Regions from separate parts of the Homo sapiens genome. Here regions 2, 3 and 4 are each linked to region 1. The links come from fine-mapping of genetic effects on gene expression. A gene starts in region 1. Each other region holds a variant in brackets. All regions are shown on one strand. Distances are between the middles of the regions.

Region 1 (2,602 bases):
CAAGAGCAACTCCCTCTCGGAAGGGAGGAAGATCCCCTGGAGAGCAGACCACTGCCAAGAGCACACCTGCAGAGGCTCCAATACAATGCTCTGCACAGCCGCCCAGCACCGCCTGACCTCCCGGATAGCAGCGCCAGCACAGCCAACGAGTGTGTGACACCGCCGCACTCACCACCGCTCTGCGCCCAGCCCCAGGCCAGTACCCGGGCCCACGACTTCCCCCGACTCCCCCTAGCACGGACTGTTTCTCGCCGGAGATCAACTTTAAGTCCCCAAGACAAGTGCTCCTGCGGTCCCAGGGCCAAAGTCCCTCCACACACCCTCACACAGGCACTTCCTACCCACCCGCACCCCACCCCTGGGGGTGGAGGAGAAGCAGCAGCGGCCCGGGACAAGCACAGTCCGCAGCCACAAACCTCACTCTACCAGAACTCCGGCTAGGTCAGGGGTCAGGCTTTGCTCCCAAACACAACCCCACACGACTAACGCGGAGAAGCTGGGTCACCGCCTACTCAAACTCCGGCCGTCCCAAACCCAAGCCGGGCAGAGTGGGACCCACGGCGGCGTGGGAGACTGAGCACAACCACGGCGGGGCAGGAGGAAGGGGCGGCCCGCCCCGGCCTACGCCCACCCCCACCCCGGACCCGATCTCCTGGGAGCCGAGGGTGGGTGACTGAGCCGAAAGGGTGGCCCATCCCCGAGCTCGCTGCTGGGGACGAGAAGCAGAGCCCCGAGCAGCAGCGGCCGTCCAGGCTCCCGTCGCCCTCACCCCGCCCGGCACGGGCGCGCACTCGCCGGGGCGCGCTGATGGGGCGAGGGCTACCGAACCAGGAGTGCCGGCCCCGGGCCCGCCGCGGCTCTCGTCCGCGCGGCGCCGGAGTTCGGCTCAGCGGGGTCCCGGCGGAGGCCTCCAACCTCTAGCGAGCAATCCTGGCAGACAAAGCCAGCGCCGCCCGCGGGGCCGCTCCTGGGCAGGCGGGGAGGGAGGCTGAGGGGCCAAACAGGGACCTAAGGAGCAGCCCTCGCCCCCGGAGAACGCTCGGGGAAGTCGGCCTCAGACAAAGAAAGGGGCAGGGCCCGACGCCCCAGCCAGGTCTCCGCGCTCTACTCACCCGCGCGCGGCGGCGGCAGCGGCGGCGCGGCCCGGCTCGGCCGAGGAAGTTAGAGCAAGTTCCGCGGCGCGGGGCGGGAGGGCGCGACTCGGGCCGTCCGAGCGGCGGGGGCGGGGCGCGGAGGGGCGCGGAGGGGCGGGGCCGGAGGCGCGGCGCCTGCCGTCTGCCGAGGAAGGGGCGCCGCTTCCCTGCGCCGCCCGGTGCGGCCCCGGGCGCCTGGGCCCGCCCTGGCCCCGCCCCTCCCCCAGCCGCCTCGCCCCTCCCCCACCGCACCCCGCCTCCCGGCCCGCGCGGCACCGGGGACCGCGAGGCCGGGTCGCCGGCCCGCCCCTTTGTCCCGCTCTGGGCGGTGCCGGAGGCTTGGGGCGGCCCCGGTCCGCGCCCTCCCAGTGGGTGCGCGGCGCAGGCCGGGCCTGGCCCGGGGCCGGGCACTTGTAGCCGCCGGGAGCGCTCTGAGCCGTTGCGCTGCGCAGACGCCGCTCTGGCCTTGTCGGAGCCGAACCTGGGAGAAGCACGAGCTGTGGGAGGCGGCGTCTCGAGGGATACACGGGATGACCGTGGAGAGCGGGCGAAGGATTAGGAAAATGGCTGTGGTGGAGATAAGAGGCGTTCCTGCCCGGCTTTGGAGCCTGGGGGCGGGGGTAGTCTTCAATCAAAAGAAGGATGGGGAAAAGGTTTTTATTTCTTTGTAAACCAAGGAGTAAGGACACGCTCCTTCTGGCCTTGGTGCTAAAAATACCAAGCTTTCTTTGGATCGTGGCTGAGATTTCTTCCTAACCTTTACGCTAAAGAGGTGGCTGGGACGATTCTTGTGGTGTAGGGGGGTTTCCAGGGACAGCCAGGGGTGGCGCCCCTCTTTGGATCGTGGCTGAGATTTGTTCCTCACCTTTACGCTAAAGAGATGGCTGGGACGATTCCTGTGGGGTAGAGGGGTTTCCAGGGATAGCCAGGGGCGGCTCCCCAGCCTCAGCCTCCCTACCTGTAGAATGAAGCATGCCACACCTCTGTTTCTTAAACTTATTCGGTGGCTGAGGGCCGAGTGGTCTTCTCTGTTGAGTAACACCAAACAGGGATCTATTAAAACTGGGCTAAGACTGGTTGCCACATGCCAGTACAAGCAACCAACAGGTTAATTCCAATGGAAGGAGGAAATCTTGAAATGGAGACTGTTCAGTCCATTCCCAGGTTTGTTTGGGTTGTTTTTTGAGCTAAGGTATCGCTTTGTCACCCAGGCTGGAGTGCAGTGGCATGACCATGGCTCACTGCAGCCTCGACCTCCCGCCTCAGCTTCCCCAAGTAGCTGGGACCACAGGTGCAGGCCACCACACCTAGCTAATTTTTTTTTTTTTTTTTTTGTAGAGACGAGATCTTGCTGTGTTGCCAGTGATGGTCTTAAATTCCTGGGCTTAAGCAATCCTTCCGCCTCTGCCTCCCAGAGTGCTGGAATTACACGCATGAGCCACGGTGCCTGGCTAATTTTATTTGTTTGT
Region 2 (2,602 bases), 30 kb before region 1:
CTGCTGTGTTGGCCAGCGGGTTGGAAAGCAGGTCCTGACCCTCTGTGGGGCTGGCAGATCCTGGTCTCCACATAGTTTAAGCTGAAGAAGGTAAATGGGAGACTCATTAGGACTCCAGCCTAAGCCACATCCTCCTACACAGTGTAAGGTGGCCTTCTGACTGTGGAGGGGTAATGATGGAGCTGCACAACAGGTATGGCTCGGAGGCTTCAGAACCCCAAGGGAGGAAAAAAGGACTGAGCGCTCCTGAGCCACCAACGGAGCTACTAGGGCATTTACACAAAAATGCAGGAAGGCTGATAAAGGCAGTAGTGCTGAAACTAGAACCCAGATCTGACCCAAAATGATTCCCAAAATGACCATGGTCCCTAGCATCTCACCTCATTTGCTAAACCACATCATACTGAAGGAAGGCAGAAGTTAGCCCTCTATGAGCAGATGCATCCACAAAGAACACCAACACTCTTTATCTTACACACACACACGCACGCATGACTAAGAACCTTCCTAAAAGTAGAGATGGGTAAACTTTTCACAAATGTTAGGTACCATTCCAGCAGAGAAGAATCTCCAAAAGCTATTTTGTGTGCCTAGAAAAAAAATTAGGATCTCAAACTGTCTCAACTCTAAGAATGTGATAGAAAATAAAGCATCAGTGTGGCAGGAAGGAGGCACATGTTTATCAAAATACCAACTTCTCAAAACAGGGCAAAGGGAGAATTGTTTAACAGTAGTGAGATAACTGGTTAGCAACTTGAGGGGAGTTAAATAATAAGCAAATAACAACTTACAGATTTAAAGGGCATATGCACATACATGCACACACCACACCCAGAGAACAGGGTTTTCAAGTCCATTTTACCCACCTTCAACTTTTGAGGCAACAGGAAAAAACAATTCAAAGCACAAGACTACCAAGCCTGAACAGATAACAAATCTAAAAAATCCCCATGAATAAAAGTAACATTAAAATAAAAAAGGAAACACAAATGTTATCTGCAGCTGAAAAAATTATGACACAGTAAATATCTGCAACCTATAGAGACCCATACTTCAAAAAGACCCCCGTTGTACACAAATGAACAAAGGATATGAACATTATACACAAAGGAAAGAATAACAAAGGGAAGAATAACGTAACAAATGGAAAAATAAGCCTGTGCAACAAGGCCAAACACCATCTCTACAAAAAGTACAAAAATTAGCTGGGTGTGGTGACTGAAGTCCCAGCTACGTGGGAGGCTGAGGCGGGATAATCGCTTGAGCCTGGGAGGTCCAGGCTGTGATGAACAGTGATGACACCACTGCACTCCAGTCTGGGTGACAGAGCAAGACCCGGTCTTTAAAAAATAAAAAAATTTAAAAAAAAGGAAAAATTTTCAATGTCACTAGAAATAAAACTTAAAGACAACCCAGATATACTATTTTACACTTTTTTTTTTTTTAAACAAGTCCTGCTCTGTTGCCCAAGCTGGAGTGCAGTGG[C/T]GCACTCAGCTCACTGCAACCTCCGCCTCCCTGGTTCAAGTGATTCTCTAGCCTCAGCCTCTGGAGTAGCTGGGACCACAGGTGCATGCCACCAGGCCTGGCTAATTTTTGTATTTTTTGTACAAACGGGGTTTCATCATGTTGCCCAGGCTGGTTTTGAACTCCTGAGCTCAAAGCAATCCGCCCACCTTGGCCTTCCAAAGTGCTGAGATTACAGGCGTGAGTCACCGTGCCTGGCCTATTTTACACTTTTTTTTTTTTTTTTTTTTTTTTTTTTTTTTTTTTTTTTGAGACAAGAGTTTTGCTCTTGTTGCCCAGGCTGGAGTGCAATGGTGCAATCTTGGCTCACTGCAACCTCCGCCTCCCGGGTTCAAGTGATTATCCTGCCTCAGCCTACTGAGTAGCTGAGATTACAGGCGACCGACACCATGTCCAACTAATTTTTGTATTTTTAGTAGAGACAGGAGTTTCACCATGTTGGCCAGGCTGATCTCGAACTACTGACCTTGGGTGATCTGCCCATCTCAGCCTCCCAAAGTGCTGGGATTATAGGCATAAGCCACCATACCCGGCCTACTTTACACTTTTTAATTTAACAAAATTGCCACCACTATTGTGGCAAACACATTTATTCCTTGTTGGCAGCAGATGAAACGGTTACTACCATTTGGTAGCAATATGGTTACATTTACCACCCAAAAAAAGGTCACACCCTTAATCAATAAACTAATGACTAAGAATTTGCCTCCAGAAAAAGAATACACATTAAGTGAAACATGAACCTCATGGTTTGCAATTATGAGACAATTTGTAAGCATGTGCTTAAAGGCCAAAGTGGAATGTTAAGAGCATGAAAATGGCTGCATGGGGTGGTGGTGGACTTACAAGTGATTTTCCAAAAAGGTTTCCAGCATCACACTTACCATTACCACCTTTGTATTATAAATGAAAATGGGGCCGCTGCTGGTTGGAGGTGCCCCTGCTGGGAAGGAGAATGCTTGCTACAATATATAAGGCTGGCAGTCATCATAAACAGGGCTCCTTGGCTTCAGTGTTGTACTCACCTTTAATATTCCTCCCTCCTGCCCTTTTTTAAATTAAAAAAGTAGCACATTCT
Region 3 (2,602 bases), 62 kb before region 1:
GGCTTCTTGGAAGCCCTGAACAGCACTGGAAAGACTCCTGGTTTCTCTGATCACTGAATTCTTGACTTTCTCTGCCAGTTCTTCTCCTAGCAGTCACCAACCAGCCCAGTCACCCCAGGCCTCACTGCCTGCTCAGCCACCAACATCCTCCCACATGTGCAACCTGGTTCAAATGAACAAGCACAGCCTGGGAGAGGAAAGGATGCCACAAACGGCAGCAGGCCTCAGAGGATGTCTCATGGACAGGGAAGATACCTGACAACTCCAGCCCAGGGGCCAGAGACAGGAGGAGAGGTCCTGGGGCAAGTGCACACACGTGAGCCTCAGGCCACCCTCAGGCCCCAGGTGACCAAGGGTTTCACCTCCCCATCTGCAGCACTTGATGGCCCACCCCGAGCACACTCCTGACCTACCTCCAGATAGGCAGTGACCCTTCTGCAGCCCATTGGGCCCTCTGGAGAGGGCTGCCACCAGGACCTGTGCAGGGCCACAAGCCCCTCCCAGCCTGCCCCCGCCCAGAGGGCCCCCCTATAGGTAGCGTTTATGGAAGCCACCATTCTCCTCCCCAATACACTTACACGCATACACTCTCTCAGCCTTGGACATCCAGTTGAATCCCTTTTTTTCTTCTGCAAGCTTCCTTAATACCATACCCAAACTGGACCCATGCACTCTATGTTAAGGGCCCAATCTCAAATGAAAAAAGGCCACCTGCCAATCCTATAGGCTCCTGGGACACACCTGCAACAGCGAGATGGCGATGAAGACGCCAGCCACAATGTAAATGTTCCGCGGGAGCCAGCTTTCCAGCGCCTGGATGCAGCCTTTCGTGAAGATGGACTCATCCCACTTGCTCTTCAGCTGCAGGAAAACACCACAGGGGTCTGAGCCTTTGGCACACACGATGTCCCCACCTGATCCCCTAGTGAGCTCTGGTAAGGAGCAGGGCAAAGCAGGGTGGGAACGAGGGATCCAGGAGGCAGGCAAGGAGGACTCTCCAGGAGATGCTCGTCAGCTCCTCTCAG[C/A]CTCTGCCCCTCGCTGGGCACTGTGCCATCGCACCACCTGTCTGACCAAAGGCTCCCTGGCTGTTTCCTTTCAGGTCTCCAGAGATTTAAAGCCCAACTTTCTCAAGATACCCTTCCCCACCATCCACATCTGGAGAAAGAGAAGGGGCTTGAAGGCTTGGAGGAAAATGTGCCTCTAAAGGGAGAGAAACCTGGAGAAGGGGGTCCAGAGTCTCCTAAGAAGAGAAGAAGGGTGCTTCTCGGAGCGGGCATCCCACCAGTAAGCTCAGCTCCAGGAGACAGAGCCAGCAGGCAACAGTCGCCAGCCAACCAGCTCCCTCCACTGCTAACCCCGGTGGGGTGTCAGTAACCATCCCAGCACACACCCCAGCCCTGCCCACCCCACACAGGGCAATCGGCCCCAGCCCCCTCACACCTATCAGCCTCCTCCATGGCAACATGATGGAGTATTAGCCCCTAATTTTAGAGGTGTTAGGAGCTAAATTGTGTCCTCAAAATCCATACACTGAAGTCCTAACCCCCAGGACTTCAGAAGGTGACTGTATTTGTAGACAGGCTCTTTACAGAGGTAATTATGCTAAAATGAGGCCATCAGGGTGCCCCCTAATCCAATATGAAGAGCATCCTGCTAAGAGGAGGAGATCAGGACACAGACATGCACAGAGGGGAGCCCACGTGAGGACACAGGGAGAGGACAGCCACCTGCAGCCAGGAGAGAGGCCTGGAACAGACCCTTCCATCACAGCCCTCTGAAGGCACCCACCTCACCTCGCCAGCACCTTGATCTTGGACTTCTAGCCTCCAAACTGTGAGAAAATAAATGCCTGCTGTGGCTTAAATTTCTGTCTGTGGTATGTTGTGACAGCAGCCTTAGCAAATTAATATAAGTGGCAAAAAAAATCATAATTAGGGAAGCTGATGTTGATATAGGTTCTTATCTTAGTCCATTCAGGCAACTAGAATAAAATACTATAGATTAGGTGGCTTATAAACAACAGAAATTTATTTCTCACAGTCCTGGAGGCCGGGAAGTTCAAGATCAGGACACTGGCAAATTCAGTGTCGGATGAGGGCCCACTTTCTGGTTCATGGATGGCACCCTCTCACTGTGTCTTCACACAGTGGAGTGACAAATAAGCTCTCTGGGCCTCTTACATAAGGACACTCATCCCACTCATAAGGACTCTGCCCTCATGACCCAATCCCCTCCCCAAGACCCCACCTCTTAAATACCATCACATTGGAGTTTAAGTTCCAACATGTGAATTTTGGAGAGACACACACATTCAGTTTACAGCACTTTCTCCCTGTGAAATGCAGGTCCCTAAAGGAGGACAGTTCCCCAAGCTGTAGGGACACATCCCTCATATCCACGGCTAACAGGTGGGGTCTCTGAAGATTCCTCGAGACTCCTCCCTTTTAGAACAGCAGTCATTCATATCACCAAAGACCACTAGAACAAGGACTGGAGTGGGGTGGGGTCTTCCTTCTCTTTGCATCTAAGAGCACACTCCCTACAGCCTAAAGGAAGTCCTGGAGGACAGAGCCTCGCCCCTGCCCCAGGCCTGCCTCCCTCT
Region 4 (2,602 bases), 69 kb before region 1:
CTTTAACAGAAGGCACGGGAAGGACCACTACCTCTCAGAGATGGAAAGGCTTGCCATGGTCCACGCAGCACAAAGCCCACCCCCAGCCATATCATCCCAGACAGGAAGGGTGTAGCCTGGGCTTGCATACCTCCAAGGACAGGGTGCTCAGTCCCTCCTAGAGGCCACTTCACTTCTTCCCATATTGGCTCACAGCTGTGACTTTAAAACACAGAACGAGTGCATATCTAAAACTAGAAGAAAACACTATGGTCCTTCCTGCTGACAGCTGAGTGCTTGGGCCTAAATCAGCATCTACACACGCGGCCTGCAACCCTGGGTTCCATGCAAAGGCAGTGTGGCTGAATTGGCTGCAGGTGGAGTGAGGAGAGAGGCCAACACAGGCTCACGGTAACACTTCCACTGCCTCAGAACAAAACCCTGGATTTCCTGACCTTCCAGCAGTCCATGTGTATTTTCAAATACCAGGTTTTTCTCAGGGCACCAGGGCAAGCCGAGCAAGGCCCACACACGCTAGTCTCACACATGTCCCCCAGCACTGCCCCCAGGTTCCCAGCCCTGCTGAGCTGTCCTCACAGACACGGACACCCTCCCTCATAGGAGGTGCGGAGGAGCACCCAGTCCCGGTCTGAGGCCTCAGGCAAGTCCCAGCACACCCCAGGGCCTCTGTTCTCCTTATGAGTGGGACCAGATGGGGTCCACCAACCGTCCAAACGTGATATGCTGCTGTCTTCAGGGCACATTATCCCCAGCGTTGATGTTCACAATAATCCCCTTTCTCCCCACAGACCATCCCTCCTGGGCCCCAGGCCTCTGTGGCCTACCCTGGCCCCTTGGCAGTTGATGGCCACTCTGCTGCTTCTGGGGGCTCCCGGGCAACTTTGGTTGTGTTGGTTTCTGGTAGCATCTGCGCTCCAGGCAAGAAGCAACACCCTACCTTGTCTCCCCACCTCTATGGCACAGAAAGAGAACAGACCTTGAACTCCAAATGCCTGCTGAGGCTTGCCACAGACCTCGAAGCCTTGTTCCTAAAGGGACAGGGAAGTGGACCGTTTCGTTTCAGTGATTCAAAGCTTGAGCTATCTGACATGTGACCCAGGCAGCTCTCTCGTAGGGACTGGCAGCCACAGATAAAATTCCCCAATCATTAAAATTATGTTAGCAATAATTCAGGGGATGCATACTAAATAATCTGGATCTTTGTTAGATGCTTACCCATCTCAACTCATTTAATCCTTGAAACAACCTCACAGGGGTAGGAGGTTTTGTCACCTTATACCCACACACACCAGCAGTGGTCAGGCAGCAACAGGTACACCCCAGCCCTGAGTACCTACTTATTAAAATGTGATCCCCCATCCTGGCTAACACGGTGAAACCCCGTCTCTACTAAAAATACAAAAAAAATTAGCCGGGCGTAGTGGCGGGCGCCTGTAGTCCCAGCTACTCGGGAGGCTGAGGCAGGAGAATGGCGTGAACCC[G/A]GGAGGCGGAGCTTGCAGTGAGCCGAGATTGCGCCACTGCACTCCCGCCTGGGCCACAGAGCGAGACTCCGTCTCAAAAAAAAAAAAAAAAAAAAATGTGATCCCACCTCCCAGGAGAACTCCTCTAAAAACATGTTTTTTTCTTACAAACTGTAAGAAGCAATTCCAATAACACTGTAGTTTATATATATATATATATGTCCTTGTAAGTGCAAAACCCTGCAAAAAACTGTAACACCCATCCACAGAAGTGCAATGGCAATAGCTGACAGCATCCCCGGCCTTCATCCCCCTCCTGGAGGATGCTGCATTTCACAGCCGCATGGTTTCAGTGGGATAAAGCATGAGGAGGGGTGTGTCCGGGGATCCCTTCCCTTGCTGGCTTCACCACCACACCACCCATCAGGGGGAGGCTCGGGGTTTGTCTGTGGTAGACTCCTTCCCTCCACCATAGATGAAGGGGAGGCTGTGGAAGGCAGAGAAATGGAAACAAGATCCTGTTGACGTCACTGAGCCACTTGGATCAACCCAAACCTGAAACTCACCCCACCTTGGGACTTTCCAGTTTCAAGAGCCAAAACCTCCCCTCATTGTTTAGGCCAGTCTGAATTGGGTTTTCTATTACCTGCAACTGTAAATGGACTCCTCTGGTACAAAGGCAAGGCCCATCTGTTCTTGGCACACTCCTACAACTGATGGCGTGACCGTGAAAACGCACTGTGGATCAGTATATTAAGTAACACTCATAAAATAGTATGTAAAATGATTCCATGGGTGTGATGACCTGAGTAGATGCATGGACATTTTCAGGAAGGATTCCTAATAGTAGTTACCTCTGCGTAACAGAAGACATACTTTCACTTTTCACTTTACATTCTCTTATGTTTAGATTTTTATTTAAGTGTACTTTTTAAAAAGACTAGTTTAAAAGTTGTTTTATACAGTCCAAGGTGATAATTTATTGTAGTAGTTTTTTTTTAATTTTATTTTTTGAGATGGAGTCTCCTGTCACCCAGGCCGGAGCGCAGTGGCTCGATCTTGGCTCGTTGCAACCTCTGTCTCCCGGGTTCAAGCGATTCTCCTGCCTCAGCCTCCCGAGCAGCTGGGACTACAGGTGCACA

Direction of the effects. Alleles are on the strand shown, and positions count from the first base shown. SD is a standard deviation of normalised expression in the study named.
In carriers of allele C in region 2, the expression in visceral fat of the gene that starts at base 1,174 in region 1 tends to be higher than with T alone (small effect, 0.15 SD a copy in GTEx).
For the expression in nucleus accumbens of the gene that starts at base 1,174 in region 1, allele A in region 3 goes with a higher level than allele C (small effect, 0.28 SD a copy in GTEx).
For the expression in aorta of the gene that starts at base 1,174 in region 1, G is the low allele of the variant in region 4 and A is the other (small effect, 0.18 SD a copy in GTEx).

What was found. PIP is the estimated chance that this variant, and not a neighbour inherited with it, causes the effect. A credible set is the group of variants that fine-mapping cannot tell apart.
Region 2: its variant is the best candidate, but not a certain one, in a credible set for the expression of TSPAN14 in visceral fat (GTEx, PIP 0.60).
Region 3: its variant is the best candidate, but not a certain one, in a credible set for the expression of TSPAN14 in nucleus accumbens (GTEx, PIP 0.55).
Region 4: its variant is the best candidate, but not a certain one, in a credible set for the expression of TSPAN14 in aorta (GTEx, PIP 0.80).

What each region holds. Positions count from the first base shown.
Region 1 is chr10:80,452,882-80,455,483 of GRCh38, reverse strand. It overlaps TSPAN14 (tetraspanin 14), which reads right to left and starts at 1,174. Exons shown (of 9, transcript NM_030927.4): 1 at 1,113-1,174. RefSeq lists enhancers at 59-108, 139-398, 348-865, 1,609-1,818 and a silencer at 529-1,578.
Region 2 is chr10:80,483,084-80,485,685 of GRCh38, reverse strand. All of the region lies in intron 1 of TSPAN14 (tetraspanin 14), which reads right to left. Among named protein-coding and RNA genes, the nearest start is that of TSPAN14, 30 kb to the right of the region's middle. The variant C/T (reference allele first, on the strand shown) is at 1,486.
Region 3 is chr10:80,514,463-80,517,064 of GRCh38, reverse strand. TSPAN14 (tetraspanin 14) reads right to left here. Exons shown (of 9, transcript NM_030927.4): 8 at 742-861. Among named protein-coding and RNA genes, the nearest start is that of TSPAN14-AS1, 20 kb to the left of the region's middle. The variant C/A (reference allele first, on the strand shown) is at 1,026.
Region 4 is chr10:80,522,379-80,524,980 of GRCh38, reverse strand. TSPAN14 (tetraspanin 14) reads right to left here. Exons shown (of 9, transcript NM_030927.4): 9 at 2,350-2,602. Among named protein-coding and RNA genes, the nearest start is that of TSPAN14-AS1, 12 kb to the left of the region's middle. RefSeq lists an enhancer at 1,836-1,915. The variant G/A (reference allele first, on the strand shown) is at 1,482.